Linked DNA regions of Homo sapiens. The protein of the gene in region 1 interacts with the protein of each later gene in a biochemical or structural test. Each region holds a gene or a part of one and is shown in the gene's direction. Other genes may lie near its edges.

The links.
Region 2: the proteins of RNF126 (region 1) and RNF168 form a complex in vitro, tested with the Homo sapiens proteins (one study listed by BioGRID).
Region 3: of the proteins of RNF126 (region 1) and AICDA, one has a biochemical effect on the other in vitro, tested with the Homo sapiens proteins (one study listed by BioGRID).
Region 4: of the proteins of RNF126 (region 1) and FXN, one has a biochemical effect on the other in vitro, tested with the Homo sapiens proteins (one study listed by BioGRID).

The regions. Positions count from the first base shown.
Region 1 is NC_000019.10:652,991-660,699, reverse strand, and holds part of RNF126 (E3 ubiquitin-protein ligase RNF126), read left to right. Parts: intron 1-7,709. UniProt on the Homo sapiens protein: E3 ubiquitin-protein ligase that mediates ubiquitination oF target proteins. Depending on the associated E2 ligase, mediates 'Lys-27'-, 'Lys-29'-, 'Lys-48'- and/or 'Lys-63'-linked polyubiquitination of substrates.
Region 2 is NC_000003.12:196,486,510-196,494,218, reverse strand, and holds part of RNF168 (E3 ubiquitin-protein ligase RNF168), read left to right. Parts: intron 1-5,535; coding exon 5,536-5,612; intron 5,613-6,640; coding exon 6,641-6,820; intron 6,821-7,709. UniProt on the Homo sapiens protein: E3 ubiquitin-protein ligase required for accumulation of repair proteins to sites of DNA damage. Acts with UBE2N/UBC13 to amplify the RNF8-dependent histone ubiquitination.
Region 3 is NC_000012.12:8,609,510-8,617,039, reverse strand, and holds the start of AICDA (single-stranded DNA cytosine deaminase), read left to right. Parts: upstream 1-4,180; 5' UTR 4,181-4,272; coding exon 4,273-4,280; intron 4,281-7,530. UniProt on the Homo sapiens protein: Single-stranded DNA-specific cytidine deaminase. Involved in somatic hypermutation (SHM), gene conversion, and class-switch recombination (CSR) in B-lymphocytes by deaminating C to U during transcription of Ig-variable (V) and Ig-switch (S) region DNA.
Region 4 is NC_000009.12:69,052,650-69,060,358, forward strand, and holds part of FXN (frataxin, mitochondrial isoform 1 preproprotein), read left to right. Parts: intron 1-490; coding exon 491-611; intron 612-7,709.

The DNA.
Region 1 (7,709 bases):
CGTGATGGTGCCAGTGCACTCCAGCCTGGGTGACAAGCAAGACGCTGTCTCAAAAACGAATTTTTTATGCTGGGAAATGGGCACACCTGGCGTTTGTTCTGGGGAGGGACGGCTGCTCCGTATCTGGCAATGGGGAAAGTCCCCAGCCACAACCAGTGCCCTCGAAACGGGGCGTCTCTGCCGCTGGGGAGCTTGCCCGGCGGCTGAGTCAGGGGCGGCACTGCTGCTGCTGAGACACCTGGGCTGGCTGTCGGGAAGCTCCTGCCTGCCTCTGACGCAGGGGGGACTGGCTGCCATGGGCTGTGTGCCTGCCCACGAGGGCTTCTCCCAGGCAGCTGGGCCGTTCCGGGCCTCCTTTGCTGTCCTGGGCTCTGGGATCAGGCTGAGGCCCCGCGCAGCTGGGTCATTCTCTGCTGGGCAGCCTTGGCCTCAGTCTCCTCACCTGCCAAGTGGGTTTAGTGATGCGATTCGCTCCCCGTGGCATCTGGTGGGCACGTGTGTGCAGAGTGGCCGGCACCTGGCCGCTCTCCTGGTGACTCGTGAGGGTGTCCTGAGCGGGGAGCCACACTTGCGGTCGGGGGCTCAGGCGACGACGGCACAGGGGCAGCAGTTGCCCCCATGAAAGGCTGTGATGAGGCCGAGCGCGGTGGCTCACGCCTGTGGTCCCATCGCTTTGGGAGGCTGAGGTGGACGGATCACCTGAGGTCAGGAGTTCGAGACCAGCCTGGCTAACATGGTAAAACCCCATCCCTACTAAAAATACAAAAGATTGGCCAGGCGTGGTGGCAGGCACCTGTAGTCCCAGTGACTTAGGAGGCTGAGGCGGGAGAATTGCTTGAACCTGGAAGGCGGAGGTTGCAGTGAGCCGAGATTGTGCCACTGCAGTCCAGCCTGGGTGACAGAGCAAGACTCCTTCCAAAAAAAAAAAAAAAAGGCGATGACGAGGGTGTCTGGGTGTCTGAGCAGCAAAGGGAGCGTCAGCCAGAGTGGGGCGTGTGGCGGCAGGAACCAGACAGGCCAGCTGGAGCTCAGGCCACAGGCGGCTGCGCAGACCCAGACTCGAGCCTGCTGAGGAGGCACTGACTGGAGCTGTGACTGTAGGGTGTGGGCGAGAGCTGCTGAGGGCACTGAGCCCCCAGGAACCAGGCGGGCGCAGGGAGGTGGCCCTGCGTGCCGTCCTTGCCCCTGACCTCCCCGTCTCTGGGTGGTTCCTAGGGTGGTTCCAGCTCTGCCTGCCGACCCCCCACCCCCGAACGCCTGCAACCTCCGCAGTGTCCCCAAGTGGCGGTGAGAGGACGGTGGGGGTGCTGGGCCCTGCCGCCCACGGTGGCGGGGAAGAGCCGGCGTGGGCGGGGAGCCACCAGGAAGTGAGGGCTGCTACGGCCAGTGTCACTGATGGGGCCAGGCGGGAAGTCTCCCCAGCTGCCCCCCGGCCCACCCTGTCTTCTCCTGGTCCCTGCGGCGGCCTGGCCCGAGTCTTCAGAAGACGGCCTGGGTCTGTCTCTGGCCGCTGCTTGCTCTGTGTGTCTGCGGTTGTGCCAGATACCGTGACAGTGACAGCCTGCCCCTGCCTCTCAAGCGTCCGGCCAGCACCCTGGAGCGGCTCTGCACAGCTGGGTTCTCCGGAACGGGCTCCCTGCAGCACCCTGTGAACATGGAGCCTGGCGTTGTGATCGGGCACCAGCAATACCCCGGGAACCTGTGGATGTCGGCTGCCCTCTCTGGCCGGCTGGCGCTGGGGTCTGCCTCGGGCAGATGCCGGTGCTGAATTTCCTCCCACTTAGAACTCTGCCACCATGAGGACCTTCCTCTGAGCCTCGGGCGAGCCGTAGCACCCCTGGCACTGGCACGGATGGGCACCTGTGGGGTTCCAGTCCCTAGTGGTGGTGCCTGAAGCCACCTGGGAAGAAGAAGGCAGAGTTCGGGGCCTGGGCCGAGGCACGCCCTGGGGTGTGAGGCGGGGCCCCAGCCTGGGCTGAGGCAGTGGCTTCGCTCACGCCTCGTCCATCCAGCTTGTCTTGGGAGTGTGTGGTGCGTGGGGCCCAGGGACAGACGGTGTGAATGTGGGATGTGGTGGCAGCTGCTGAGGGCGGGAAGAAAGGGGTGCAGGCGCCGCACGTGCCCGTGCCTCTGGGGCTGCGGGGCCCACACACTGTGGATCAGCCGGGAAGCTTTGGGCACCCTTTAGGAAAACAGTAGCCAGCACGGGGGCTCCTACCGAGGCCGAGCACTGCACCATGACTCTCCCTGGGGTCTCCTGATGTGCACAGCTTCCCGAGGGCCCTGCCACCCACAGGGGCCGAGTCACTGTCACCAGGGGCCTGCCTGCCCTGGTCACTGTCAGTCATCTGGGGCCTGTAGGTCGCCAGCCCACTCCCCTCCATGCGCCTGGCCCTGGGCCCTCAGGACATGCGCCCCGTGCAGGCCCCGTGGATGAAGGGGCCTCTGCTGCCCTGCCAGGTCCCACCCGGGGATGAGGCCATCACGCTGCAGGGGTGCATGGGTGGAGCCCGGCACTGGCAGGGTCCCCCCTACCCTGGCTGCCTGGCCAGCTGTTGCTATGGTGATGATGCCGGGTGATCGTACCTCCTGCATCTGTTCTCTGACGGAGAGGTGAATGGATTCACCGTCTTCTGCTAGGGCCAGAGGCTCCAATGGGGCCTCTGTGGGGGCCCCCAGTGCGTGCTGCCCCCGGAGAAGGTGGGGCAGCTCCTTCACCAGGCCCCCTTGCCCAGGCGTTTCTACCTGCAGCTGCCCCGATTTAATACGAGACCAAGCGGTCTCTTGGCTGTGCCCTTGGAGGAGGAGGGCGGCTGGAGACCCCCAGGTCCAGCCCCTCCCACCGTCGGCCAGCAGAGGCTCAACCTCCACCCTGGATATCCGGGATCCACCTGTCACTTGCCTTCGTGACCAGAGCCTCGGTTCCGGCCTTCGGTGGCCCTGGAGGGGCTGGCCGGGGGCCTGAGAGACAGCCCAGAGCCCTGACAATACGCAGGAGTTGGGTCGCAGCCCTTGGCGTCCTCGATGGCACCCGGATTTCAGATATGAGTGAGTGTCCAGGCTGTCCTCTGTGACAGGGCAGAGGCTTGGAGCAGAGAGGTGACCTTTGAAACCCCTAGGGTGGGCGTTCCAGCAGCAGGGCCGACGTGCACAGGCCCCGACGCTGGAGTGGGTGCTGCAGAGAGAGGGTTCTGGACAGTGCTGTGGCACCAGGCCCCACGGCCGCTGCGGGCAGGACAGCGGGGGCCAAGAGGAGGCCAGGGCTGGGGCAGATGAGTGTGTATGTGGCCAGGTCGGGCTGTCGTGAGCCGGCAGTGCGGGTGGCGGGAGCATGCGTTGTGCCCTGGACTGAGACGGGAACCCGGGAGCCCGACAGAAAGCCAGTGATGCACAGAGGGGCTGAGCTCGGCACATGGGGACCAGAGCGGCCGAGCGCTGTGCCAGGCCACGTGGGCGTGTGCAGGGCCTCGTGCTTGTCCAGGAGAGATTCGGGGCTGGGGCTGGCAAGCCAGGGTCCTCAGAGGGAGACAGCTTCTCCCTCAGGCCCTTCTGGGGCTGCCTGACCTTGTGGATGCACCCAGCAGGAGAGATGGTGGTCGGGGCAGCTGCACAGCTGACTTACGTCCTGCCCTCAGTGGGGGCCAGTGCAGCTGTTCCAGGTCCACTGGGTGGTGCTAGCCTGGGGAGTCACCATGCAGGGAGAGCCTGAGCCCTGAGCTACCCCTCCATTCCCAGAGACCCACCCAGGCGATGGAGCGGCCCTGGGCTCCCGGTCAGCTGGCGGGCGGACGGCGGCAACCCCTGAGCCCAGAGGAGCCCCGATAGACCCGACACCGGCAGAAACCAGGGGTTCAGATTTGACTGTGAAGTCTCAGCGTGTTTACGTGGGGCGTCCCAATCCCGACACCCCAAACACACCCCAAGAACCGACGCCTGGGGAGAGTTGTCACGGCCACTGTGGCAGAGCCACACTGCTCCCACACTAAGCTCAGGGCCACAGTGGTGGTCGTTGGCTGCTTCCCCTTCCCCTTTCCCTTTTTCTTTTTCTTTTTCTGACACGGTCTCACTCTGTGGCCCAGGCTGGAGTGCAGTGGTATGATCTCGGCTCACTGCAACCTCTGCCTGCCGGGTTTAAGCGATTCTCGTGCCTCAGCTCCTGAGTAGCTGGGATTACAGGCACCCACCACCGTGCCCAGCTAATTTTTGTATTTTTAGTAGAGACGGTATTTCCCTATGTTGGCTGGTCTCGAACTCCTAACCTCAAGTGATCTGCCCACTTTGGCCTCCCAAAGTGCTAGGATTACAGGTGTGAGCCACTGTGCCCAGCCCTTTTTTTCTTTGTTTCTTTCTTTTTTTTGTTTTTGTTTTTGAGATGCTGCCTCACTCTGTTGCTGCAATCTTGGCTCACTGCAGCCTCCACCTCCCAGGTTCAAGCGATCCTGGCACCTCAGCCTCCCTAGCAGCTGGGACCACAGGCGCCTGGCCCATTTATTTTAATAGCTTTATCTCAGTATTTTCACACACCATATAATTCACCTGGTGAAACGTTTGTAGTATATTCATAAAGTTGTGCAACCACCACCACAGTCTAATTCCACAGCATTCTCACAGCTGCAAAAAGAACCCACCTCAGCCCTGCCAGCCGTCACTCCCCGTCCCCTCCCCCAGGCCCTGGTGCTCACACATCCCCTCTCTGTCTCTGTGGCTCGGCCTGTCCTGGACATTTCATAGACGTGGGATCACACGCTGCGTGGTCTTCTGTGTCTGGCATCTCTCACTGGACGTGATGTCCTCAAGATGCAATCCCCCCTCCCCCCCGCCGTGGCCTGGTCTGGGCCTTGCCCCTTTCCATGGTTGAGTCGTGCTCTGAGGTGCGGGTGGACACTGGAGCTGTTTGCATCTGCCGACGACGATGATGAACTGTGCTGCCGTGAACTCTCACCTGCCAGTTCTGGCCATGTGAACATTTGGTGGGCAGGTGTCTTCGTTTCTCTGGGGTCTGCGCCTGGAGTGAAAGTTCTAGCTCGTGGGTCATGGGGTAGTTCCATCTGGGGGACTTCTGGGCTCCCAGCAGGCCTGACGGGGTCTTGCATCTCGTCCTGGCTGGCCCTGGGAAGTGGCATCTCGCTGGGGCTGGCCGGCTGCGTTTACCCAGCGTGTTTTTGGAGGCATGTCCTGTACACGTCCTTTCCCCCCCCACTTTTCTTTTTTTTTGAGATGGAGTGTCACTCTGTCGCCCGGGCTAGAGTGCAGTGGCGCGATCTCGGCTCACTGCAAGCTCTGCCTCCCAGGTTCAAGCCGTTCTCCTGCCTCAGCCTCCCGACTTTGCCCGTTTTTAGTTGCGTTGTCTGTTTCTCTTTTTCTTTTTTTTTTTGGCAGGGTCTGGTTCTGTCACCCAGGCTAGCGCAGTGGTGGGACCACAGCTCACTGCGGTCTCGATCTCCTGGACTCAAGCCATTCTGCCTCCTGCCTCCCGCTCCTGCCTGTCTCCTCCCCCTCCTTAGTAGCTGGAGCTACAGACCCACCCCAGCATACCCAGCTAATTTGTTTTTTGTAGAAATGGGGTTTGGCCATGTTGGCTAGGCTGGTCTCAAGCTCCTGACCTCAAATGGTCTGCCCACCTTGGCTTCCCAAAGTACTGGGATCACAGGTGTGAGCTGCTGCACCTGGCCTGGGCTTTTTTTTCTTTCTTTCTTTCTTTCTTTTGAGTTGTAAGCACTTTTTTTTTTCCCGATACGGAGTCTCACTCTGTCGCCCAGGCTGGAGTTACAATGTCATGATCTCGGCTCGTTGCAGCCTCCGCCTCCTAGGTTCAAGCGATTCTCCTGTCTCAGCCTCCTGAGTAGCTGGGATTACAGGTACGTGCCACCACGCCTGGCTAACATTTGTATTTTTAGTAGAGACGGGGTTTCTCCATGTTGTCCAGGCTGGTCTCGAACTCCTGGCCTCAGGTGATTCGCCTGCCTCGGCCTCCCAAAGTGCCAGGATTACAGGTATGAGACACCGCGCCCGGCCAGCACTTTTTTTTTTTTTTTTTTTTTTTTTTTTTTTTTTTTTGAGACGGAGTCTTGCTCCCTCGCCCAGGCTGCAGTGCAATGGCACAATCTCAGCTCACTGCAACCTCCGCCTCCCGGGCTCAAGCAATTCTCCTGCCTCAGCCTCCCAAGTAGCTGGGATTACAGGCGCCCGCCACCACACCCGGCTAATTTTTGTATTTTTAGTAGAGACAGAGTTTCACCATGTTGGCCAGGCTGGTCTCCAACTCCTGATCTCAGATGATCCGCCCGCCTCGGCCTCCCGAAGTGCCAGGATTACAGGCCTGAGCCACCGCGCCCCCGGTGATGGCGGAGCGTGCCGAGAATTCGTGGGGCGTGGGCTGAAACGCATGTGGTGCCTCCCGGCCTCACCAGGAGCCGGGCCGCACTTTTTCTATATTGTAGATGGTGCCTCTTCACTCTCCCCTCACGGTGGGTTCATGTGCATCTGGCATCGTTTGCTCACCCTGGCCTTAGTCCCTCCCCACCCAGCCTGTGCTTCAGTGGCAGGAGCAGGTGAGGCAGGCACGGCGTGGTGTGGGCGGGGGCCCAGCTGTCGGCCCTCCCCTTGGGCACTGCACGCCAGACCCCCGCTTCTCCCCAGAGTCAGTGGGTGAGGCCGGGATCTTGCTTGCTGGAGAGGTCCCAGCCCCTGCCCCTGCGAAGACTGAACAGCCCCGGTGCAACCTGCATCCCCAGAGCCTGGGGTCGACCTTGGCTCCCCTCACAGCACTCCCCCATGCACGGTGGGAGCCTTGTCTCCTGTTTTTGTCTGTGTTACCTGGGGGTGGTCTTGGGACCCCCATGTGAGCCCCTGGCGTGATGACACGTGCCGTGTGAGGCCATTTTCACGTTGCTGCGATGGAGCACTTGAGACTGGGTCGTTCATAGAGAGCAGTTGATTTAGCTTCCAGTTTCCAGTTCTGCAGGCTGTGCGGGAAGTGTGTGTCGGCATCTGCCCAGCCCCTGGTGAGGCCGGGAGGCACCATGCACGTTTCAGCCCAGGCCCCACGAATGCTCGGCACGCTCCGCCATCACCAGGGGCCCAGCCATCCATGAGGAGTCCGCCCTGTGAGCCAGTGTCTCCAGCAGGCCCTTCAGCCCTGGGGATCCCGTTGCAGTGTGAGATCCACAGGGGATGGCATCCGTCCTGCTCGGCACAGCTGTGGCTTGAGGCTGGTGCTGGGGAACTGTGAACGTGGTTTTGGGACTCACCCACGGCTGTCCCTGGGCAGGGTCCTCACGTCTCCTCTGGGACATCACCATGTTGGCCTTGTGTTGTCCTTGGCTCTAGGGGGACCTGGGGATGGGGTCTTGCAGGGGTGTGGCCAGCGTGGACGTGGCCTCCCCCGAGCCAGGGGAACGGGCTGTGTGCGGGGCTGCCAGAGCGTCCTGGAAATGCCACTGTGGGGTATTGGGGCACCCCTCCGAGTGGTGCCACCTGTGTGAGGAGGTGCCCAGGCACTGGTGACGCCCGTCACGGTGGGGCAGGTCGGAGGGGCTCAGCCAAGGCGCTGATGACGCTGGTGACGCCCGTCACGGTGGGGCCAGGTCGGAGGGGCTCAGATCGCCGGGAGCCACCAAAGGGTCAGCGGGTGGCTGGCAGAGGCCAGGTCCCCTCGGCCGCCCTCCAGGACCCACGGGTTGGGAGCCACCCTGGCCTGCGTGTGCCTG
Region 2 (7,709 bases), on another chromosome or scaffold:
CACTTTAAGACTATAAAACTGAGATATTCAAATTTCTTATAAAATTAGAGTTGTTTAAGAAATAGCAAACAGGCCAGGTGCGGGGGCTCACACCTGTAATCTCAGTACTTGAGAGTTCAAGGCAGGCAAATCGCTTGAGCCTGAGAGTGTGAGACCAGCCTGGCCAATAGGGCAAAACCGTCTACAAAAAATACAAAAATTAGCCGGGTGTGGTGGTGGGCGCCTGTAGTCTCAGCTACATGGGAGGCTCAGGCAGTAGCATTGCTTGAGCCTGGGAGGTGGACACTGCAGTGAGCTGAGATTGCACCACTGCACTGCAGCCTGAGTGACAAAGTGAGACTCTGTCTCAAAAAAAAAAAAAAATAAATTTAAAAAAAGAAAGAAATAGCAAATGGAAGGCTGGGCACGGTGGCTCACACCTGTAATCCTGGCACTTTGGAAGGCAGGTGGATCACCTGAGGTCAGGAGTTCAAGACCAGCCTGGCCAACATGGTAAAACCCCCGTCTCTACTAAAATTACAAAAAATTAGCTGGGCGTGGTGGGACATGCCTGTAATCCCAGCTACTCAGGAGGCTGAGGCAGGAGAATTGCTTGAACCCGGGAGGTGGAGGCTGCAGTTACCTGAGATTGCGCCATTGTACTCCAGCCTGGGCAACAAGAGCGAAACTCCGTCAAAGAAGAAAAAGAAATAGCAAATGGACTGGATGCAGTGGCTCACACCTGTTATCCCAGTGCTTCAGGAGGCTAGGGCAGGAGAATCGCTTCAGCCAAGGGGTTGGAGGCTGCAGTGAGCTATGATCCCGCCACTGAACTCCAGCCTGGGCAAGAGTGAGATCTTGTTTCCAAAAACAAAAGAAAAAGGCAAATGAAGACAATTTTAACTTGTGTCTGCAGTTGAATAACTCACTGATCTTAATTTAGATTCAGTTTATGTAGAAATAAGTAAACTTTAAAAATCTGTCATTCCACGGTTTAACAAAAGTTCAGCTCTCTGCTTGCTGTAGTTGGGCATCTTCTGTAAATCGCACGTGCCTTTCCTTTGCCTGTTGTGGTTTTTAATTGATCTGTGGAAGTTCTAGTTATATTCTGGACACTAATTCTCTGGTGATTTATGTATTTGCAAATAACTTCTAGTTTGTTTTTAACTTTGTGATGTCTTTCATCACATGGAAGTTTTAATTGTTTTGGAATTTATCTCATATGTTCTTCTTAGTCGTTTATAGTTTTGTTTTTTTCCATTTTTTAATCCACCTTGAATTCGAGTATTGTATGAGGTAGGCATCTTAACTCCCCCTGCCCTTGATTGCCACTTAATAGCCACACTACTTGGTAGTAATACAGCCACATTGATATACGTACTATTTCACTAATCATATGCTTATTTTCCAGAGCAATTTGGGGCTATTTATTTATTTTATTTATTTATTTATTTATTTATTTGAGATGGAGTCTCTCTCTGTCACCCAGGCTGGAGTGCAATGGTGCGATCTTGGCTCACTGCAACCTCTGCCTCTCGGGTTCAAGCGATTCTCCTGTCTCAGCCTCTTGAGTAGCTGGGATTACAGGCGTGCACCACCACACGTGGCTAATTTTTGTATTTTTAGTAGACATAGGGTTATTTGCCTTGTTGGCCAGGCTGGTTTTGAACTCCTGACCTCAAGTGATCCGCCTGCCTCCACCTCCCAAAGTGCCGGGATTACAGGCATGAGCCATGGCACCTTGCCTGGGCTTTTTATTTTTTAACTATCTCTTTATCAGTAGCTGTGTCAGTACCACACATGCTTAGTTTAATTCTGCTTAATGATATGTTTTGCTTTCTAGTATAATACATCTGTCTTATTATTGTTTTCCTAAATTAGCTACTTAAAAAAAATTTTTTTGAACAAAGATGGGGTCTTGCTATGTTGCCCAGGCTGGTCTTGATAGCCTGAGCTCAAGTGGTCCTCCTGCCTCAGCCTTCCAAAGTGCTGGGATTACAGGCATGAGCCACTGTGCCCAGCCTCTTAGCTACTATTTTATTGTATCTAATGTGTAAAGTGATTTACTTTTTTTCCAGTTTTATTGTAAAAGATACATAACATAAAATCCGCCATGTTAACCATTTTTAAATGGACAGTTGCGTGACATGAAGTACATTCATGTTTTTGTGCAGCCGTCACCACCATTCATCTCTGAACTTTCTCATCTTCCACGCTTGAAACTGCCCATTAAACAATAATTAATTCCCCATTCACCCCTCCCCTGGCTGCTGGCGACCTCCATTCTTTCTGCCTCTACGGGTTTAATTGCTCTAGGTGTCTCGTACGAGTGGAACCCCACACAGTGTCTGTCCTTTGGTGACTGGCTGTTTCACGCAGCGTAGTGTCTTGAAGGTCCATCGTGTTCTAGCACGTGTCCATTCCATTTCCTTTTTTGGCCGCATACTCCATTATGTGTGTGTATATATCTTAATGGATGACTATTATAAAAAAAAAACCAAGTGTTGGCTGTCCTCTGAAGCGGTATCTCCGTACTCAGGATTTGCACTTCCCTAATGACTAGTAATGTTGAACATGTGTTTTTGTTTGTTTGTGAGACGGAGCCTCCCTCTGTCGCCCAGGCTGGAGTGCAGTGGCGTGATCTCGGCTCACTGCAAGCTCCGCCTCCCGGGTTCAAGCAATTCTTCTGTGTCAGCCTCTCGAGTAGTTGGAATTACAGGTGCCTGCCACCACTCCCGGCTTTTTGTATTTTTTGGTAGAGACGGGTTTCACCGTGTTGGTCAGGCTGGTCTCAAACTCTTGACCTCAAGTGATCCACCTGCCTCGGCCTCCCAAAATGCTGTGATTACAGGCATGAGCCACTGTGCCCGGCCTACTGTCAGTTGTTTTATTTGGGTTTTTTGTTTGTTTCTTTGTTTGTTTGTTTTGAGACGGAATCTCCCTCTGTCGTCCAGGCTGGAGTGTAGTGGTGCAATGTCGGCTCACTGCAGCCTCCGCCTCCCGGGTTCAAGCTATTCTACTGCCTCAGCCTCCCGAGTAGCTGAGACTACAGGTGCGTGCCACCACGCCTGGCTAATTTTTGTATTCTTAGTATAGACGGGGTTTCACCATATTGGCCAGGCTGGTCTCGAACTCCTGACCTCATGATCCGCCTGCCTCAGCCTCCCAAAGTGCTGGGATTACAGGCGTGAGCCACCGCTCCCAGCTTACTTTAATTTTTTAAATGAAAATAGTTTGACTCTGCAGTTTCCCTGAAAAAAAGTCTCAGATACCTCCAGGGTTTCGTAGATTCTACTTTAAGACTTGCTGATCTAGGTCTCAGTTTAAGCCAGCTGATTATCCTTCTACTTTTTAAGGAGCCTTATATATGTCTCTCCTGTGTATACCATTGTATTGTCTTGAATAGATCCTCCTTAGTGACTAAAATAAATGAGAATTCAGCATACTGCATCCCTAATTGTTTTGGAGTTACATCACTGTTTTTTAGTCTCTCTGTTGCAGATTTTTCAAACTGCTGGCCTGCAGGCCATAGGAATCCTGTGTGCATGTTTTTTGTGACCCATCCAATGCCACTATTTAAGTTGGAAGATTTCATATTAACATCTTGATTGCTGGATTTTCTTTTTTTTTTTCTTTTTACTTGGATAAATTTATGGGGTGCAAGGGTAATTTTGTTACATGTATAGATTGCACAGTGGCGAAGTCAGGGCTCTTTAGGGTATCTGCTACCCAAATAATGTACATTGTACCCATGAAGTCATCTCTCACCATCCACCCCTGCCGCCTCTGGATTTTCTTGAGAAAGCAAAAAATATGGCACGGACAGGCCTGAGTTTCCTGGTAGTCGTAGTCAGCTGGAGTTGAGTAGCAGCTGCCCCTTGAAACAGACAGATGCGTTCTCTTTTTTGGATGTTCCCTTTTTACACTTTATAAAACAGTGTCTTGTTTTATAGAATAAAATTCTCATCAGATTTGTTGAGGATACATACCCACATTTAGGTTATTTTCTGACCCAGAATTATCTTTCAACTCCAGGGTGATGATTTTTTCTCTTTGTATAGCTTACTGTTTCCCTAGTCCTGCAGATGTATTTCAAATGTCTGACGATCCTTGGATTAGCTTTTAGGTTTGAGAATGAGGCCCAGGAGAAAAGCTCTGTGTATGTGGAAGGGTATTGGTGATGGGCAGACGTTGAGTTCAAGCCGATGGAAACCTGGCCTTTGTGCTTTGCCATCCCTAACTGCCCGATCGCAGAGGACTTTGCTCTGGGTCACCACCTATTACATTAGCTGCTCTGGCTCTCTCTAGATCTGTTTCTTTAAAGAAATATGCGTGTGTGCACCTGCACCCATATCCAGGGAGAAATGCCGGTAAGTCGAGGATTCTGATTTAACAGCTTATAAATCTCGAGTTCTGTTTTCAGTCCCACGGTTACTCACTCTGGACTCTATGAGCCTCTCTCTAGGCAAATAGGAGGCAGATTCCCTTCTAATTCTACCTCAGCTGTAGTCTTCCCTTTCAAGGATTTCTTTTCCTTCATTTCTGCTGTATCAATTATCTCTATTTCATTGCCTTCCCATTTTCTAGAAATTTGTTAAAAATTTTTTAACTGGAGCCGGGCACGGTGGCTCACGCCTGTAGTCCCAGCACTTTGGGAGGCTGAGGTGAGCAGATTGCCCGACATTAGGAGTTCGAAACCAGCCTGGCCAACATGGCAAAAACCGGTCTGTATTAAAAATACAAAAATTAGCTGGGCATGGTTGGGCATGCCTGTGATCCCAGCTACTCAGGACACTGAGGCACAATAATTGTTTGAACCCGGGAGGCGGAGGTTGCAGTGAGCTGAGATTGCACCACTGCACTCCAGCCTGGGTGACAGAGCAAGACTCTGTCTCAAAAAAAAAAAACATTTTTTTTTAATCAGTTAACCTCCTCTGCTAATTTCTGCTGTTGTAGGATTACAGTTTTTAAAAATTCCTTTACTGTTATTTTAATGGAGTTTAGAGGAAGGGTTAAGTATATGCATTCATATGCCATTTCAAACCCAAAACCCTAAACCTCTGGCCTCACAAAATGGAATTCCAGGCCGGGCGTGGTGGCTCACACCTGTAATCGCAGCACTTTGGGAGGCCAAGGCGGGTGGATCACTTGAGGTCAGGAGCTCGAGACCAGCCTGGCCAATGTGGTGAAACCCTGACTCTACCAAAAATATAAAAAATTAGCTGGGTGTGGTGGCGCATGCCTGTAATCCCAGCTGCTCAGGAGAAGGCTGAGGCAGGAGAATCGCTTGAACCTGGGAGGTGGAGGTTGCAGTGAGCCGAGACTGTGCCACTGCACTCCAGCCTGGGCAGCAGAGCAAGGCTCTGTCTCAAAAAAAATAAATAAAATAAATCTAAAATAAATAAATAAAATAAATGTTAAAAATGGAATTCCAAAAGGAGATATTGCTGCAGTTATTAATAGTTGTATATTTTAATTTTTCGTTTTAATGGAAGACCAAAGTTACCATAAAATTGTGTTGCCTATAATGTTATTTTCTTTTTTGATATGAAATAGCTGATGACTATCAGCCAGTTCGTCTGCTCAGTAAACCTGGGGAACTGAGAAGAGAATATGAAGAGGAAATAAGCAAGGTAGGTGCTAAATAGTTTTTTTTTTTGGAATATTTCTCTGCTGTGTTTTTAGTTTCAGATTTTAATTTAGTTTTTTGTGCTTATATAACTAGTATATCTTGAAATATGGATAATTTTTTTTTTTTGAGATGGAGTCTCACTCTGTCACCCAGGCTGGAGTGCAGTGGCGCAATCTCGGCTCACTGCAACCTCCACCTCCCGGGTTCATGCCATTCTCCTGCCTCAGCCTCCCGAGTAGCTGGGACTACAGGCGCCCGCCACTACGCCTGGCTAATTTTTTTGTATTTTTAGTAGAGATGGGGTTTCACAGTGTTCACCAGGATGGTCTCGATCTCCTGACCTTGTGATCCGCCCGCCTCGGCCTCCCAAAGTGCTGGGATTATAGGTGTGAGCCACTGTGCCTGGCCAAAATATGGATAATTTTAATGTACTTTATAAGGGCTTTGTTTTTTGCTGTAATTTACTTCTACATAATTAATGCTCTTATGTGATAGTGTTCCCTAAGCATTTACATATGAAGAAAATTTTTTAATTCTTCTTTTTCCTAATTTAATCCATACCAGGATATATTTTTATTTCCCCAAAGTTTTGAGCTTAAAGTAAAAGGGTGGTAGAGTGTGAGTTTAGATGAGGAAAGGTTAAAGGGCTAGCTGTGAAGTTCCTAAATAGGAAAAGTACCTAAAAAGCAGTGTTTATAGTGAAGCATTATGTTTTAATTACATATGAAGTTATACATAAATAGAGATTTTTCTCTTTTTTTGTTAGTCTTCAAAATTTTGTGTATAATTTTCACTTGTAATACATCTCAGGCTAGGTGTGGAGGCTCACACCTATAATTTCAGTGCTTTGGGAGGCTGAGATGGGACAGCTATCTTGCAGGAATCTACTTCTCCAGATTTGTACTTCATTTGAGATCATTTAAATTTCTGCCAATTTGTTCTTTTTCTACTTTTCTATTCTTGTTATGAAATATTGCAAGTATACCAAAACGTTCAGAGAAGGATTGCTCTTTATTAATCACTTTTAAGGTGGCGGCAGAGCGACGGGCCAGCGAGGAAGAAGAAAACAAAGCCAGTGAAGAATACATACAGAGGTTGTTGGCAGAGGAGGAAGAAGAGGAAAAAAGACAGGCAGAAAAAAGGCGAAGAGCGATGGAAGAACAACTGAAAAGTGATGAGGAACTGGCAAGAAAGCTAAGCATTGATATTGTAAGTTTTAGGAGGGAACGCTAAGGTATGGTCATCCCTTGGTATGCGCTGCTGCAGAACCCGCTCATGGGAAGAGTCAGCTCCTTGTATTTCCAGGTTCTGCATCCCACAAATATTGTCTTTTCCACCCCAGGCTGGTTGGATTTGAGTGTTTGGAACCTGCTGATACGGAAAGCTAACTATTAACATTCCGATTGCTTTGACTGTGGTTTTCAAAGAACAGAAGAGATGGCGTTGCCATAATTAGAAGCTATTGATAACATTTTTGCTTTACTTAAAGTAAAATTGTTTTGCATATTGTTACATATTTGCTCTAATCCAGGTTTTTGGGGTTTTTTGTTTTTTGAGACAGGTCTTACTCTGTCATGCAGGTTGGAGTGCAGTGGCACAATCACGACTCACTGCAGCCTCGACGGCCGGGCTCCGGTGATCCTTCCAACCTCCCGAGTAGCTGGGACTACAGGCTGGCACTACCATGCCTGGCTACTTTTTTGTGGAGACAGGGCTTTGCCATGTTTCCTGAACTGGTGTCGAGCTCCTGGGCTCAAGCCGTCCATCTGCCTCGGCGTCTCAAAGTGCTGGGTTTGTGGCGTGAGCCACCGCAAGTTGTTTAACAACTTTTTTATATGTAGGAAAGCTATTCAGTGAAGAATGAAAGCTTCCTTTTTCCTTCTTCCACCTCTCCACTCCCGTTCCTTTTCCATTTATATCAGTCTCTATCCCCAAAGGTAACCACTATTAACAGTTTCTTACAACTTTTTTCTTGCCAGGGTGCGATGGCTCGGGCCTGTAATCCCAGTACATTGGGAAGCTGAGGCGAGAGGATCGCTTGAGCCCAGGAGTTTGAGACCAGCCTGGGCAACAAAGTGAGACCCTGTTTCTTCAGAAA
Region 3 (7,530 bases), on another chromosome or scaffold:
AACTACTATATGATCCTCAAAAATTTTAATACAGAACTACCATATTGAGCAATCCTGCTTCTGGGTAAATACCCAAAGAAAACAAAATCAGTGCCTTGAAGAGATAACTCCATGTCCACTGCTGCGCTATTCACAATAGCCAAGATATGGAGACAACCTACGTGTCTGTCGACAGATGAATGGATCAAGAAAATGTGGCACGTATATATATATCAGAATAAGAATATCATTCTGCCTTAAGAAAGGAGATCTTGCCATTTGCAACAACATTGATAAATCTGGAGGACATTATGCTTGGTGAAATAAGCCAGACACAGAAAGAAAAATACTGCATAATCTCACTTATATGTGGAATCTTAAAAAGTTGAACACATAGAAGCAGAAAGTAAAATGGTGAGCCAGCCACAGTGGCTCACGCCTGTAATCTCAGCACTTTGGGAGGCCGAGGTGGGTGGATCACTTGAGGCCAGGAGTTCGAGACCAGCCTGGCCAACATGGTGAAACCCCCGTCTCTACTAAAAATACAAAAATCAGCTGGGCGTGGTGGTGCATGCTTGGAATTCCAGCTAATTGGGAGGCTGAGGCAGGAGAATCCTTTGAACCCAGGAGGCGGAGGTTGCAGTGAGCCGAGATCACACCATTGCACTCCAGCCTGGGCAACAGAGTGAGACTCCGTCTCAAAAAAAAAAAAAAAATAAAATAAGAAAGAAAGAAAGTAAAATGGTGGTTAGCAGGCATGGGGAGGTAGGGAAAATGGGAAGATGTTGCTCAAATGGTACAAAGTTGCAGTTATACAGGATTAATAAGTCTAGAGCTCTATTGTACAGCATGATGACTACAGTTAAAAAAGATTGTATTGGGCCAGGCACAGTGGCTCACACCTGTAATCACAGCACTTTGGCTGAGATGGGAGCATTGTTTGAGCCCAGGAGTTCAAGACCTAACTGAGCAACATAGTGAGATCCTGCCTGTACAAAAAAACAAACAAAAAAATTAGCCCAGTGTGGTAGTGTGCAGCTGTGGTCCCAGCTACTCGGGAGGCTGAGGTGGGAGGATTGTTTGAGCCCGGGAGGTCAACGCTGCAGTGAGCCAAGATCATGCCACTGCACACCAGCCTAGGCAACAGAGTGAGACTCTTGTCTCGAAAAAAAAAAAAAATTGTATACTGGAAATTTTCTAAGACAGTAGATTTCAGATGCGGTCACCACACACACATATCCATACAAGGTTACTATGTGAGGAGATGGATAAGTTAATTAGCTTGACTGTAGTAATCATTTCATTACAGATAACAAAACACCATGTTATGCACCTTAAATATGTGCCGTTTTTATTTAAAACAATAAAACAACCCAATTGTGTGTACCTGTGTGTTATTCTCTTGACAAATGGGTGAAAATATGATAAAAGCCCAACTCGCATCTGAGGATACAACTTAAAGGGATTAGATTTCAAATGCCTGCACCTTCCAGTTGACGCTGCAGATGAATTAGGAGTCTCCATTCTGCTCCTTGACCAACTGTCCTATAAAACTGAGAGTGCCAAAGGCAACTACCGTCTACTATCTTGCTGGTGCCCTGAGGAATTTTTTCAGCAATAATAATTTAGACAAGGCCAGGTGCAGTGGCTCACGCCTGTAATCCCAGCACTTTGGAAGGCTGATATGGGCAGATCACTTGACCCCAGGAGTTCGACACCAGCCTGGTCAACATGGAAAGGCCTCGTCTCTAAAGAAAAATACAAAAATGAGCTGGGTGTGGTGGCACATTCCTGTAGTCTCAGCTCCTCGGGAGGCTGAGGCAGGAGTGTCACTTGAGCCCAGGAGGTCAAGGCCTGCAGTGAGCCATGTTCATGTCACTGTAGTGCAGCCTGGGTGACAGAGAGAGACCCTCCTCAAAATAATAATTATTATTATTACATAATTATTAGAAATAATTATAATTATTATTTTGAATCTCATGGCTAATTAAAAAATAATTTAAACAGATTATTTTACTTGTCTTTAGTTTACTTAGGAGTGTATTTTAAGTGATAAGTGCTAAAGAGAAAAATAATTTAGGGGATGGAGGCAAGGGAGTGTCAGAATGGTGAGATTTTGTTGACATTTTAGATATGGTGACTAGGACAAATCTCAAATACCGGACAGTATTTGAATAAGGACATAAAATATATGATGGTGTAAGCCACAACCATACACAAAAAATAACATTTCAGCAGAGGGACCTCAAGGGCAGAGGAAGGAGTGTGCGCTCTTTGCGTGAGCAAGGGAGAGAGTGGAAGGAGATGCAGCCAGAGGGGTGAAGCAGAGCAGACGGTAGAGGGGCTTGTGGGCCATCTCAGGCTGCTGGCCTATACTGAGAGAATGGGAAGCCATGGAGGGTTATGACAGGGGAGTGACATGACCTTAAATATTCCAGAAGGAATACTCTAGTTGCCATGTGGAGAACAGACTGTAATCGAAGAAGGGGGAGGCAGGAAGGCCAGTTGGGAAGCAAAATGCAATAATCCAGGTTGCTTGGACCTGGAGGTAGTGAGAAGTGGTCAGTTTGTGGCTATATTCTGGAAGCAGAGATAACAGGATTTGCTAATGGAGTGTGCATGGAATTTAAAAGAAAGAGAGGAGCTGAGAGACACTCTGCCCAGGTTTTGCCAAGCAATTGGAAGAATACTGCTGTTTATTGAGATGGGAAAGACGGCAAGAAGAGTAGGTAAGGCAGAGAACAGGGGTTCTGTTTTAGACAGGCTGGAGGTGCTCAGACATCCAAATGGAGATTCTGAGAGGGAAGCTGGATACACTTGTCTTGAGTTTCAAGAAGTGGTCTGATAGATTTGCCTGTGTCCCCACCCAAATCTCATCTTGAATTGTAGTTCCCACAATTCCCACATGTCATGGGAGGGACCCAGTGGGAGGTAGTTGAACAATGGGGGTGGGTCTTTCCCATGCTGTTCTCATGATAGTGAATAAGTCTCACAAGATCTGATGGTTTTATAAAGGGATTTCCCCCTGCGTGAGCTCTCTCTTGCCTACCACCATGTAAGATGTCCCTTGCTCTTCTGCCATGATTGTGAGGCCTCCCCAGCCATGTGGAACTGTGAGTCAACTAAACCTCTTTCCTTTATAAATTACCCAGTCTCAGGCATGTCTTTATTAGCAGTGTGAGAACAGACGAATACATGGTCCAAGCTAGGGCTATTGATTTGAAAATCATCAAGGTATAGATGGTATCAAAGGCTTGAGGCAGGAAGAGAGCAGAGACCCTAGCTGCATTGCTTAGCATTGCATCCCTAGCACCTGGCATAGTTTCCATTAACAGTAGGCATGAAGTATCTACTCAGTGAATAAATAGAATGCATATGGGCTACAGTAGGAGAGAGAAATAAAATCTTTAATAGACCAAGTTCTATGAGAGCACAAAATTAAAGTCTTTTATTTGAAGATCTTAGCCTGTTTTCCAAATTCAGTGCAGCCAGTTAGACACTGAATCTGTCTGGTGAAACAAGCATTTTTGTATTTTGGGGGACTGCTGCTGCTTCTGACTCCAAATTAAGGATTTTTTTTTTTTCTAAAAAAGATGGCTCATGCAAAAATCACTCTTTGGTGTAAATATCTAGTCTTCAAGCAATTCTTGTAATGCAATCAGAAAGAAAAAAATCCATGGTTTGGGAGGCAAAATTTTTGTGTTCTAAATTCTATATAACTGAGTTCATTTGCTTAACTGCAAAGCAGGAGCTGCTAGTGCCTGTCTGTACTGAGGTTCAGAGAGACTGTGGGAATATGGGGGAATTAGAGGCTATCTGAGGCTCTTCAACACAATAACCCAAGAAGCTATTTAAATGCTCTTTAAGGTATTTACATAAATATTACTATTCTCATTGTGCTTTTATTTTGTGTTATCATGATTATAATTGAAGTGTCTACTGTTACTGCCTCCTGATCTTTGCTAGCTATGGAGCATGGACTGGGCTTTTAGAGCAGCAGCCCCAAAGGAACCTAAACATTAAAGCAGAGCTGCCCTCAATGGTTTAACCTGTGTGACTCTGCCTATGACAGCCCCACCCACCCATCTTCACTGGATCCAAATCAGGAGCAAGGCCGTTGGGGTACCTGGTGGGGGTGATGCTGTCAGGGGAGGAGCCCAAAAGGGCAAGCTCAAATTTGAATGTGAAGGGCCAATGCACTGTCAGACTAAGACAGAGAACCATCATTAATTGAAGTGAGATTTTTCTGGCCTGAGACTTGCAGGGAGGCAAGAAGACACTCTGGACACCACTATGGACAGGTAAAGAGGCAGTCTTCTCGTGGGTGATTGCACTGGCCTTCCTCTCAGAGCAAATCTGAGTAATGAGACTGGTAGCTATCCCTTTCTCTCATGTAACTGTCTGACTGATAAGATCAGCTTGATCAATATGCATATATATTTTTTGATCTGTCTCCTTTTCTTCTATTCAGATCTTATACGCTGTCAGCCCAATTCTTTCTGTTTCAGACTTCTCTTGATTTCCCTCTTTTTCATGTGGCAAAAGAAGTAGTGCGTACAATGTACTGATTCGTCCTGAGATTTGTACCATGGTTGAAACTAATTTATGGTAATAATATTAACATAGCAAATCTTTAGAGACTCAAATCATGAAAAGGTAATAGCAGTACTGTACTAAAAACGGTAGTGCTAATTTTCGTAATAATTTTGTAAATATTCAACAGTAAAACAACTTGAAGACACACTTTCCTAGGGAGGCGTTACTGAAATAATTTAGCTATAGTAAGAAAATTTGTAATTTTAGAAATGCCAAGCATTCTAAATTAATTGCTTGAAAGTCACTATGATTGTGTCCATTATAAGGAGACAAATTCATTCAAGCAAGTTATTTAATGTTAAAGGCCCAATTGTTAGGCAGTTAATGGCACTTTTACTATTAACTAATCTTTCCATTTGTTCAGACGTAGCTTAACTTACCTCTTAGGTGTGAATTTGGTTAAGGTCCTCATAATGTCTTTATGTGCAGTTTTTGATAGGTTATTGTCATAGAACTTATTCTATTCCTACATTTATGATTACTATGGATGTATGAGAATAACACCTAATCCTTATACTTTACCTCAATTTAACTCCTTTATAAAGAACTTACATTACAGAATAAAGATTTTTTAAAAATATATTTTTTTGTAGAGACAGGGTCTTAGCCCAGCCGAGGCTGGTCTCTAAGTCCTGGCCCAAGCGATCCTCCTGCCTGGGCCTCCTAAAGTGCTGGAATTATAGACATGAGCCATCACATCCAATATACAGAATAAAGATTTTTAATGGAGGATTTAATGTTCTTCAGAAAATTTTCTTGAGGTCAGACAATGTCAAATGTCTCCTCAGTTTACACTGAGATTTTGAAAACAAGTCTGAGCTATAGGTCCTTGTGAAGGGTCCATTGGAAATACTTGTTCAAAGTAAAATGGAAAGCAAAGGTAAAATCAGCAGTTGAAATTCAGAGAAAGACAGAAAAGGAGAAAAGATGAAATTCAACAGGACAGAAGGGAAATATATTATCATTAAGGAGGACAGTATCTGTAGAGCTCATTAGTGATGGCAAAATGACTTGGTCAGGATTATTTTTAACCCGCTTGTTTCTGGTTTGCACGGCTGGGGATGCAGCTAGGGTTCTGCCTCAGGGAGCACAGCTGTCCAGAGCAGCTGTCAGCCTGCAAGCCTGAAACACTCCCTCGGTAAAGTCCTTCCTACTCAGGACAGAAATGACGAGAACAGGGAGCTGGAAACAGGCCCCTAACCAGAGAAGGGAAGTAATGGATCAACAAAGTTAACTAGCAGGTCAGGATCACGCAATTCATTTCACTCTGACTGGTAACATGTGACAGAAACAGTGTAGGCTTATTGTATTTTCATGTAGAGTAGGACCCAAAAATCCACCCAAAGTCCTTTATCTATGCCACATCCTTCTTATCTATACTTCCAGGACACTTTTTCTTCCTTATGATAAGGCTCTCTCTCTCTCCACACACACACACACACACACACACACACACACACACACACACACAAACACACACCCCGCCAACCAAGGTGCATGTAAAAAGATGTAGATTCCTCTGCCTTTCTCATCTACACAGCCCAGGAGGGTAAGTTAATATAAGAGGGATTTATTGGTAAGAGATGATGCTTAATCTGTTTAACACTGGGCCTCAAAGAGAGAATTTCTTTTCTTCTGTACTTATTAAGCACCTATTATGTGTTGAGCTTATATATACAAAGGGTTATTATATGCTAATATAGTAATAGTAATGGTGGTTGGTACTATGGTAATTACCATAAAAATTATTATCCTTTTAAAATAAAGCTAATTATTATTGGATCTTTTTTAGTATTCATTTTATGTTTTTTATGTTTTTGATTTTTTAAAAGACAATCTCACCCTGTTACCCAGGCTGGAGTGCAGTGGTGCAATCATAGCTTTCTGCAGTCTTGAACTCCTGGGCTCAAGCAATCCTCCTGCCTTGGCCTCCCAAAGTGTTGGGATACAGTCATGAGCCACTGCATCTGGCCTAGGATCCATTTAGATTAAAATATGCATTTTAAATTTTAAAATAATATGGCTAATTTTTACCTTATGTAATGTGTATACTGGCAATAAATCTAGTTTGCTGCCTAAAGTTTAAAGTGCTTTCCAGTAAGCTTCATGTACGTGAGGGGAGACATTTAAAGTGAAACAGACAGCCAGGTGTGGTGGCTCACGCCTGTAATCCCAGCACTCTGGGAGGCTGAGGTGGGTGGATCGCTTGAGCCCTGGAGTTCAAGACCAGCCTGAGCAACATGGCAAAACGCTGTTTCTATAACAAAAATTAGCCGGGCATGGTGGCATGTGCCTGTGGTCCCAGCTACTAGGGGGCTGAGGCAGGAGAATCGTTGGAGCCCAGGAGGTCAAGGCTGCACTGAGCAGTGCTTGCGCCACTGCACTCCAGCCTGGGTGACAGGACCAGACCTTGCCTCAAAAAAATAAGAAGAAAAATTAAAAATAAATGGAAACAACTACAAAGAGCTGTTGTCCTAGATGAGCTACTTAGTTAGGCTGATATTTTGGTATTTAACTTTTAAAGTCAGGGTCTGTCACCTGCACTACATTATTAAAATATCAATTCTCAATGTATATCCACACAAAGACTGGTACGTGAATGTTCATAGTACCTTTATTCACAAAACCCCAAAGTAGAGACTATCCAAATATCCATCAACAAGTGAACAAATAAACAAAATGTGCTATATCCATGCAATGGAATACCACCCTGCAGTACAAAGAAGCTACTTGGGGATGAATCCCAAAGTCATGACGCTAAATGAAAGAGTCAGACATGAAGGAGGAGATAATGTATGCCATACGAAATTCTAGAAAATGAAAGTAACTTATAGTTACAGAAAGCAAATCAGGGCAGGCATAGAGGCTCACACCTGTAATCCCAGCACTTTGAGAGGCCACGTGGGAAGATTGCTAGAACTCAGGAGTTCAAGACCAGCCTGGGCAACACAGTGA
Region 4 (7,709 bases), on another chromosome or scaffold:
CTCCTGCCTCAGCCTCCTGAGTAGCTGGGACTACAGGCACCCGTCACCACGCCCGGCTAATTTTTTGTATTTTCAGTAGAGACGGGGTTTCACCATGTTAGCCAGGATGGTCTCGATCTCCTGACCGTGTTATCTGCCTGCCTCGGCCTCCCAGAGTGCTGGGATTACAGGCATGAGCTACCACGCCCGGCCTTTAAATTTTTACTTTGGGCCGGGCACGGTGCCTTACGCCTGTAATCCTAACATTTCGAGAAGCTGAGGCACGTGGTGGATCACTTGATGTCACGAGTTCAGACCAGCCACTGCACTCCAGCCTGGGTGACAGAGTGAGACTCTGTCTCAAAAAAAAAAAAAAAAGAAAGAAAAACTTTTACTTTTTACATGTTATTTTCATCAATTTAATGAATTTAAATAACAAATGTATAAATTTGATATTAATAAAATGGAAGCATTTGGTAATCATGTTTTGGGTTTTGTGCTTCCTCTGCAGCTCTCTAGATGAGACCACCTATGAAAGACTAGCAGAGGAAACGCTGGACTCTTTAGCAGAGTTTTTTGAAGACCTTGCAGACAAGCCATACACGTTTGAGGACTATGATGTCTCCTTTGGGGTACCTCTTGACTTCTTTTATTTTTCTGTTTCCCCCTCTAAGAATTTTAGTTCACTAAAATGAAGAATTTCCCTCCAGCAGAGCTAAGCATCAAGTAGCATGTAGTTGTAGGTAGGATTAAAAGACTAGGGTTCCGGGAGGTGAAGGTTGCAGTGAGCCAAAATCACGCCACTGCACTCCAGCCTGGGTGACAGAGCGAGACTCTGTCATAGATGGATGGATGGATGGATGGATGGATGGATGGATGGATAGATAGATAGATAGATAGATAGATAGCTGGATAGATAGATAAGATAGATAAGACAAGACTAGGCTTCAAGCTGCAGTCCAGCTCTACCAGGCTTGTTGTGACTCTGGGCAAGTCACTCAGCCTCTCTGAGCCTCATTTTCCAGCTTCAGTGGATACCCATGAAGGCAAATCAGAGAGGGGCCTGAGTGTGTATTTGTCCAGCAGGCAGATGGAGGGAACAACAAACTAGACCCGTAGTTCTTCAGTAGGGATAAGATAACTGCCCAAAAGTTATTTAGATTACAAAGACTTGAGCCCTGCTCCTGTGAGACAGTGATGGGGTAGGTCGGGTGCATTCCTGGGAAGCATATTTTTGAAAAGCTCACCTGGGATTCTAATGTGTATCCCTAGGTCTTATTCCTAGAGATTTTGATTACTTGGTCTGGGGTGTGGCATGACCTGGGCAGGGCACTGGGATTTTTAAGCTCCACAGATGATTCCAATATGCAGCTAGTATGAGAACTTGTTTTTTTTTGAAGGAGTCTCACTCTGTCACCCAGGCTGGAGTGCAGTGGCGCAATCTCGGCTCACTGCTCCGCTTCCTGGGTTCAAGCAGTTCTCCTGCCTCAGCCTCCCGAGTAGCTGGGATTATAGGCATCTGCCACCATGCCCAGCTAATTTTTGCATTTTAGTAAAGACGGGGTTTCACCATGTTGGTTAGGCTGGTCTCGATCTCCTGACCTCAAATGGTCCACCCCCATCAGCCTTCCAAAGTTTTGGGATAACAGGCGTGAGCCACCAGGTCCGGCCTGGTGTGAGAACTTCTGAGTTGGATGAAACATTAGCCCCAGATCCTAGAAGCCAGGGAAGTGCTGGTCTTTATCGACTGGCCACCAGGTGGCAGATTTGGGCAAGGGTCTGCCTTTGGGTTTAGAATTATTGCTTAGGCCTTAAAGTAGTTCTTTTTTGCCAGTGGGAGAAAATCCCTCAAAGATGGTTTTCTGGGTTGGTTGGTTTGTTTGTCTGTTTGTTTGTTTTTTGAGACAGAGTCTCCCTCTGTTATTCAGCCTGGAGTGCAGTGGCATGATCTCACTGCAACCTCTGCCTCTCGGGTTCAAGCAGTTCTCCTGCCTCAACCTCCCAAGTAGCTGGAATTATAGGCACACGCCCCCACACCCAGCTAATTTTTGTATTTTTAGTAGAGACAGTGTTTCACCACGTTGGCCAGGCTGGTTTTGAACTCCTGAACTCAAGTAATCCTCCCACCTCAGCCTCCCAAAGTGCTAGGATTACAGGTGTGAGCCACCGCGCCTGGCTCCTCAAAGATGTTAATCCTCTTGATGGCAATTGACTAATACCAGAAAATGTCACGAAGCGTGCATTTTGGATTCAATCATGGAATTGTTGAGGACAATCAGCCATCAGACTAAAGCGATAGAAATAGTATTGGAAATTGCAGCGGGAGCACTGAATGGAGAAGGCACTCCACATAATGGAGGAGGCAACCAAGTCTTAGAGAAGGTATCAAGCCTGACTATAAGGACAGTGAGGGAATTGAAAAAACAAAAAAGGAGCAATGGAGCAGGGAAGGATTGAATGCCTTTCAAGTAGATTCAGTAATTGCTGTTAGCAGCAAAAAATGCAGTAGTGCCTGGGCAGGGCTTTAAAGTGCTTGCACAGGCAGCCCTAGAGGGCCGGGCTGCTTGGGAACTCTTACAAACTGACCTACCAACTTGAGCATCCACAGCCTGATCAGAGGTGGGGGAGTTAAGGGCCTTCTCTCCCCTAGCCTCTACTAGAGCCTGTAACTGCAGGGAAACCAAGTTGCAGGCTAAACTCTGCCCACACATGCAGACATTGATTAGCAAGCTACAAAAACAGTCATGAAACCTGTTTTTATAGGATTAGTGAAGCCCCAGTTTGACCAGAGTACTTTGCATGAATGTTTTGTTAGAAGCAAATGTGCCAATATTCTAGCAGCTGCGTTTGGTTTACTTCTTCTTCTTCTTTTTTTTTTTTTTTGAGTTGAAGCCTAGCTCTGTCACCCAGGCTGGAGTGCAGTTGTGTGATCTCAGCTCACTGCAACCTCTGCCTCCCAGGTTCAAGCGATTCTCCCGCCTCAACCTCCTGAGTAGCTGGGATTACAGACATGTACCACAATACAGGGCTAAGTTTTGTATTTTTAGTAGAAATGGGGTTTCACCATGTTGGCCAGGCTGGTCTCAAACTCCTGATCTCAAGTGATCCACCCGCCTCAGCCTCCTAAAGTGCTGGGTTAACAGGCATGAGCCACGGCACCTGGCAAAAGTCATCTTTTGGTTTACTTCTATTGAACTGAAAAAGTCACAAATATATTTATATTTAATTAAATATATTTATATAAAAATATGGTATTTAGTATTATTATTTTTAGAGACAGGGCCTCGCTCTGTCACCCAGGCTGGAGTGCAGTGGCACAATCATAGCTCACTGCAGCCTCAAGCTTCTGGGCTCAAGTGATCGTTCCACCTCAGCCTCCCTAGTAGCTGGGACTACAGGCACATGCCACCATACTCGGCTAATTATTTTATTTTATTTATGGGTCTCGCTATGTTTCCCAGGCTGGTCTCAAACTCCTGGCCTCAAGCGATTCTCTCACCTCGGCCTCCCAAAGCACCGGGATTACAGGTGTGTGCCAGCACACCCAGCCACAAATCTATAAATTTAGAAAGGAGGACTATTTCTAAAGAGGGTCCCACTACCTGTAGGCAGGAAGCAGAGCCTCTGGCCATAACTGAAAAACAAGCACTTCCAAGAAGGGGCAAAGGGAACATGAATTTATGCTGAGAGGCGTAGCTAAGCATACATATTCAACAGATTATGGGAGGATCTATGAATATTCACAAAGGGAGGATCTATGAATATGCACACATGTGGAGTAAGCTAACGTGTGCAGCATGTCTCCCATGTTCACCTTAGGCAGAAACTTAACACTAACATGTATTACAGGGCAACAAAATGAGACTGCATATCTACATAACCTAGCTATTTGGTAGGCTGAAGCAGGAGCATCACTTAAGACTGGGAGTTCGAGGCAGCTGTGAGCCATGATCGCACCACTGTTCTCCAGCCAGGATGACAGGGCAAGACCCTGTCTTAGACCACTCTGTGGTCAGTGGTTATCAGGAAGGAATGCTAGTCAGTTGTGCTGAAACCACTAAAAAGGAAGGGCAGAATTAGGTGATGAGTTGATACCAGTGGTGAAGTGAGTCTTTTTTTTTTTTTTCTTTTTGAGATGGAGTCTTGCTCTGTTGCCCAGGCTGGAGTGTAGTGGTGTGATCTCAGCTCATCGCAACCTCCACCTCCTGGGTTCAAGTGATTCTCTTGCCTCAGCCTCCCGAGTAGCTGGGATTACAGGCGCCTGCCACCACGCCTGGCTAATTTTTTTATATTTTTAGTAGAGACTGGGTTTTGCCATGTTGTCAGGCTAGTCTTGAACTCCTGACCTCAGGTAATCCAACTGCTTTGGCCTCCCAAAGTGCTGGGATTACAGGCAGCTCCAAAGTGCTGGGATTACAGGCATGAGCCACCATGCATGGCCTGAAATAATTTTTTTGAAAGGGCTAGTTTCTATTTAGCCCTTAGGGGAAAAAAAACTAATGGCAGTTAGGGAGGGAATAGAACGAGTCCTGTTTGAACTCCTTTCCCATCATGGCCAAAACTTAAAATTTTTTTTAGATATCTCTGGGCTCCCCTTGGCCAAAAGATAGTTTGTTGAGTCAGTTGGGAGCTTAGAATTTTGTTTTTATTTCTCACATCATTGAATCAATTTGAACCAGGCGACAAAACCTTCTGCTCCCAGTAGTGGGTCAGAGAACCTTCCTGATTCCTGCCCTGAGATTGTCTCTCTGAAGACAACATTAGGCTAGTAGGCTTTCCAGATTCTGTAACCCATTCTTTCAAAGGAAGAGATGCCTATATTTTTCTAGCCAATTCATATACCTTGAGTATCACTCAAGGGCAAAATTATTTCTAACAAATCATTTACTAATTAGCAAATGCTTAAGTGTAGATTTAGAAAGCTAAAGCTATACAGTGGCTGCCATCTATAGTTTGGACTTGTGATTAACTACATTGAAATGCTAACTCTGTACCCTAGAGTATGAATTCCTGATTAGAGTCCTTCAGGTGCTAACTAATTTATGTATTTCATGTTTGATAATATTATTACTTGAGCTTTGTGGGAGAGCAGTCTTTTCCTCCCCTGAGATATAGCTAGAAGTTACCTCCTTTGTGAAGCCTTCCTAGATACTCCAAGCAGACACGGTCCTTCCTTTCTCCCTTGCCCAGCACTCTGAGGTTGACTCTGTGGAGCACTGATCCCTCTGTGTTATAATTGTCTATTTACACGTCAGCTACCACCTATAACACACTGAGTTCCTCAACAGCAGGGACACTGTCCATTCTTTGATCCCAGTGTCTGGAACAGTGCCAAGTACATAGTAGGGACTTAATAAATATTGATTCATATGTAAATGAGACTTTTCCAAAACATGCTTTCGTTGATGCCTCTCAGCATTTATACACCTTTTACCAACTCGCTACTGGCCACATAGACAAATGAAAGCAGTAATCCAGATACACCCAAGAGGACATCTGTTCTTTTTTCTCTCTGTGGAGTGGGAGACTTAAGTGGCTTCTTAACTGGTGTGTCGTCTGATCAAGTGGTCCAGGTAACAGGTGGATGCCAATGTCTGGCCCAGGCATCACCCCTTACTGGCACTGGTCATTACAGAAGACACTCTACCAGAGCTGAAAGGACCTCTTGTCACTAGGCAGCTGTGGAGTCCGCTCTACTTGACCTAGTAAAATCTGCCTGGAGACTGTTAGAGTCACCCCACTACCTGAAGTTACCTCCAGGCTGACCTCTTTTTTTTCCCAGGTGGAGTCCTGGCATCTTAGATATTTTAATAAGGATTTGCTTGTTGACATGTTCTTTATTCACTAAGGTGTCAGCATATTACTGTCTTAGAACTGAGGGTTCTTCATCTTTTTTGGATCAGGACCTCCCTCTAAGAATCTGATGACTGCTCTGGTCCCTCTCCCAATAAAAACTTCCATACTCACCTGTTAAAAAAAAAAAAAACTTTAAACAAATTAACAGAGTTTTATTCAGCAAAGAATGATTCATAAATCGGGAAGGCTGCAACCAGAATAGGTTCAGAGAGACTCCACGGTGTGCCACGTGGTTGGAGAGGATTTAGGATTTATGCACAGAAAAAGGAAAGTGACATGCAGAAAATGAAAGTGAGGGCCTGGTGCTGGTGCGGTGCCTCACGCCTGTAATCCCAGCACTTTGGGAGGCCGAGGCGGGCAGATCATGAGGTCAGGAGATCGAGACCATCCTGGCTAACACGGTGAAACCCTGTCTCTACTAAAAATGCAAAAACTTAGCCGGGCGTGGTGGCAGGCACCTGTAGTCCCAGCTACTTGGGAGGCTGAGGCAGGAGAATGGTGTGAACCTGGGAGGCGGAGCTTGCAGTGAGCCAGGATCCCGCCACTGCACTCCAGCCTGGGCGACAGAGCGAGACTTCATCTTAAAAAAAAAGAAAAGAAAAAGGAAAATGAAAGTGAGGTACAGAAACAGCCAGGTTGGTTACAGCTTGGTGTTTGCCTTAAACTTGGTTTGAACAGTTGGCCGCCTTTGATTAGCCAAAACTCGGTGATTGGTACAAGAGTAGATTGCAGTTCACTATGTACAGAGAAGCCCTTAGATCCGAACTCAAAATAGGTAAGGAGGCAGTTTTAGCTACACTTAAGTTAACATACTCAGGAGTACCATTCCAGCTTCAAGCTGGAAGTGTCTGCAGCCCCCTGAGACCACTTAATCCCAAGTTAAAAACCCCTGCTCAGAGGCAGCATCTTTTTTTTTTTTTTTTTTTTTTTTTTTGAGAGAGATCTCACTCTGTCACCCAGGCTGGAGTGCAGTGGCACGATCTCAGCTCACTGCAACCACCACCTCCTGGGCTCAAGGGATTCTCTTGCCTCAGTCTCCCGAGTAACTGGGATTACAGGCGCGTGCCACTATGTCCAGCTAATTTTTTTTTTTGTATTTTTAGTAGAGATGGGGTTTCACCATGTTGGCCTGGCTGGTCTTGAACTCTTGACCTCAAGTGATCCACTGGCCTCAGCCTCCCAAAGTGCTGGCATTAGAGGTGTGAGTCACTGTTCCTGGCCCAGTGAGGCACCATCTCATTGGATATGGAGACAAAGGATCTGGCTTAGCATCCTGGATTTGTATTTTCTTTCCAAGAGTCCTTAAGTGATATCTAACTTTTGCGAGCTGCAGTTTCCTCAGCTATGAGATGAGTGACATTAACCTCCTCTCTTCAGATTTATAAGAGGATCAATTAAAATGGCATAGGTAAAAGTGCATCCTAGCAAGTTGGTATCTACTTTAGAAATGAAGGAGGTCATATGTATGTGAAGTCTCCAGACCCAACATGCCATCTTATATGTGTCTATTTCTACAAGTGAGCTAGTGACAACAGTAATTGCTATTTTTGCTCCTACATGGGTAGGGCTGATCTTGACTAGGAGGAGTCAATAAGACTCACCAGCCGGGCGTGGTGGCTCACGCCTGTAATCCCAGCACTTTGGGAGGCCAAGGCGGGCGGATCACGAGGTCAGGAGATCGAGACCATTCTGGCTAACACGGTGAAACCCCGTCTCTACTAAAAAAATACAAAAAAATTAGCTGGGCGTGGTGGTGGGCGCCTGTAGTCCCAGCTACTCGGGAAGCTGAGGCAGGAGAATGGCGTGAACCCGGGAGGCAGAGCTTGCAGTGAACCAAGATCGAGCCACTGCACTCTAGCCTGGGTGACAGAGCG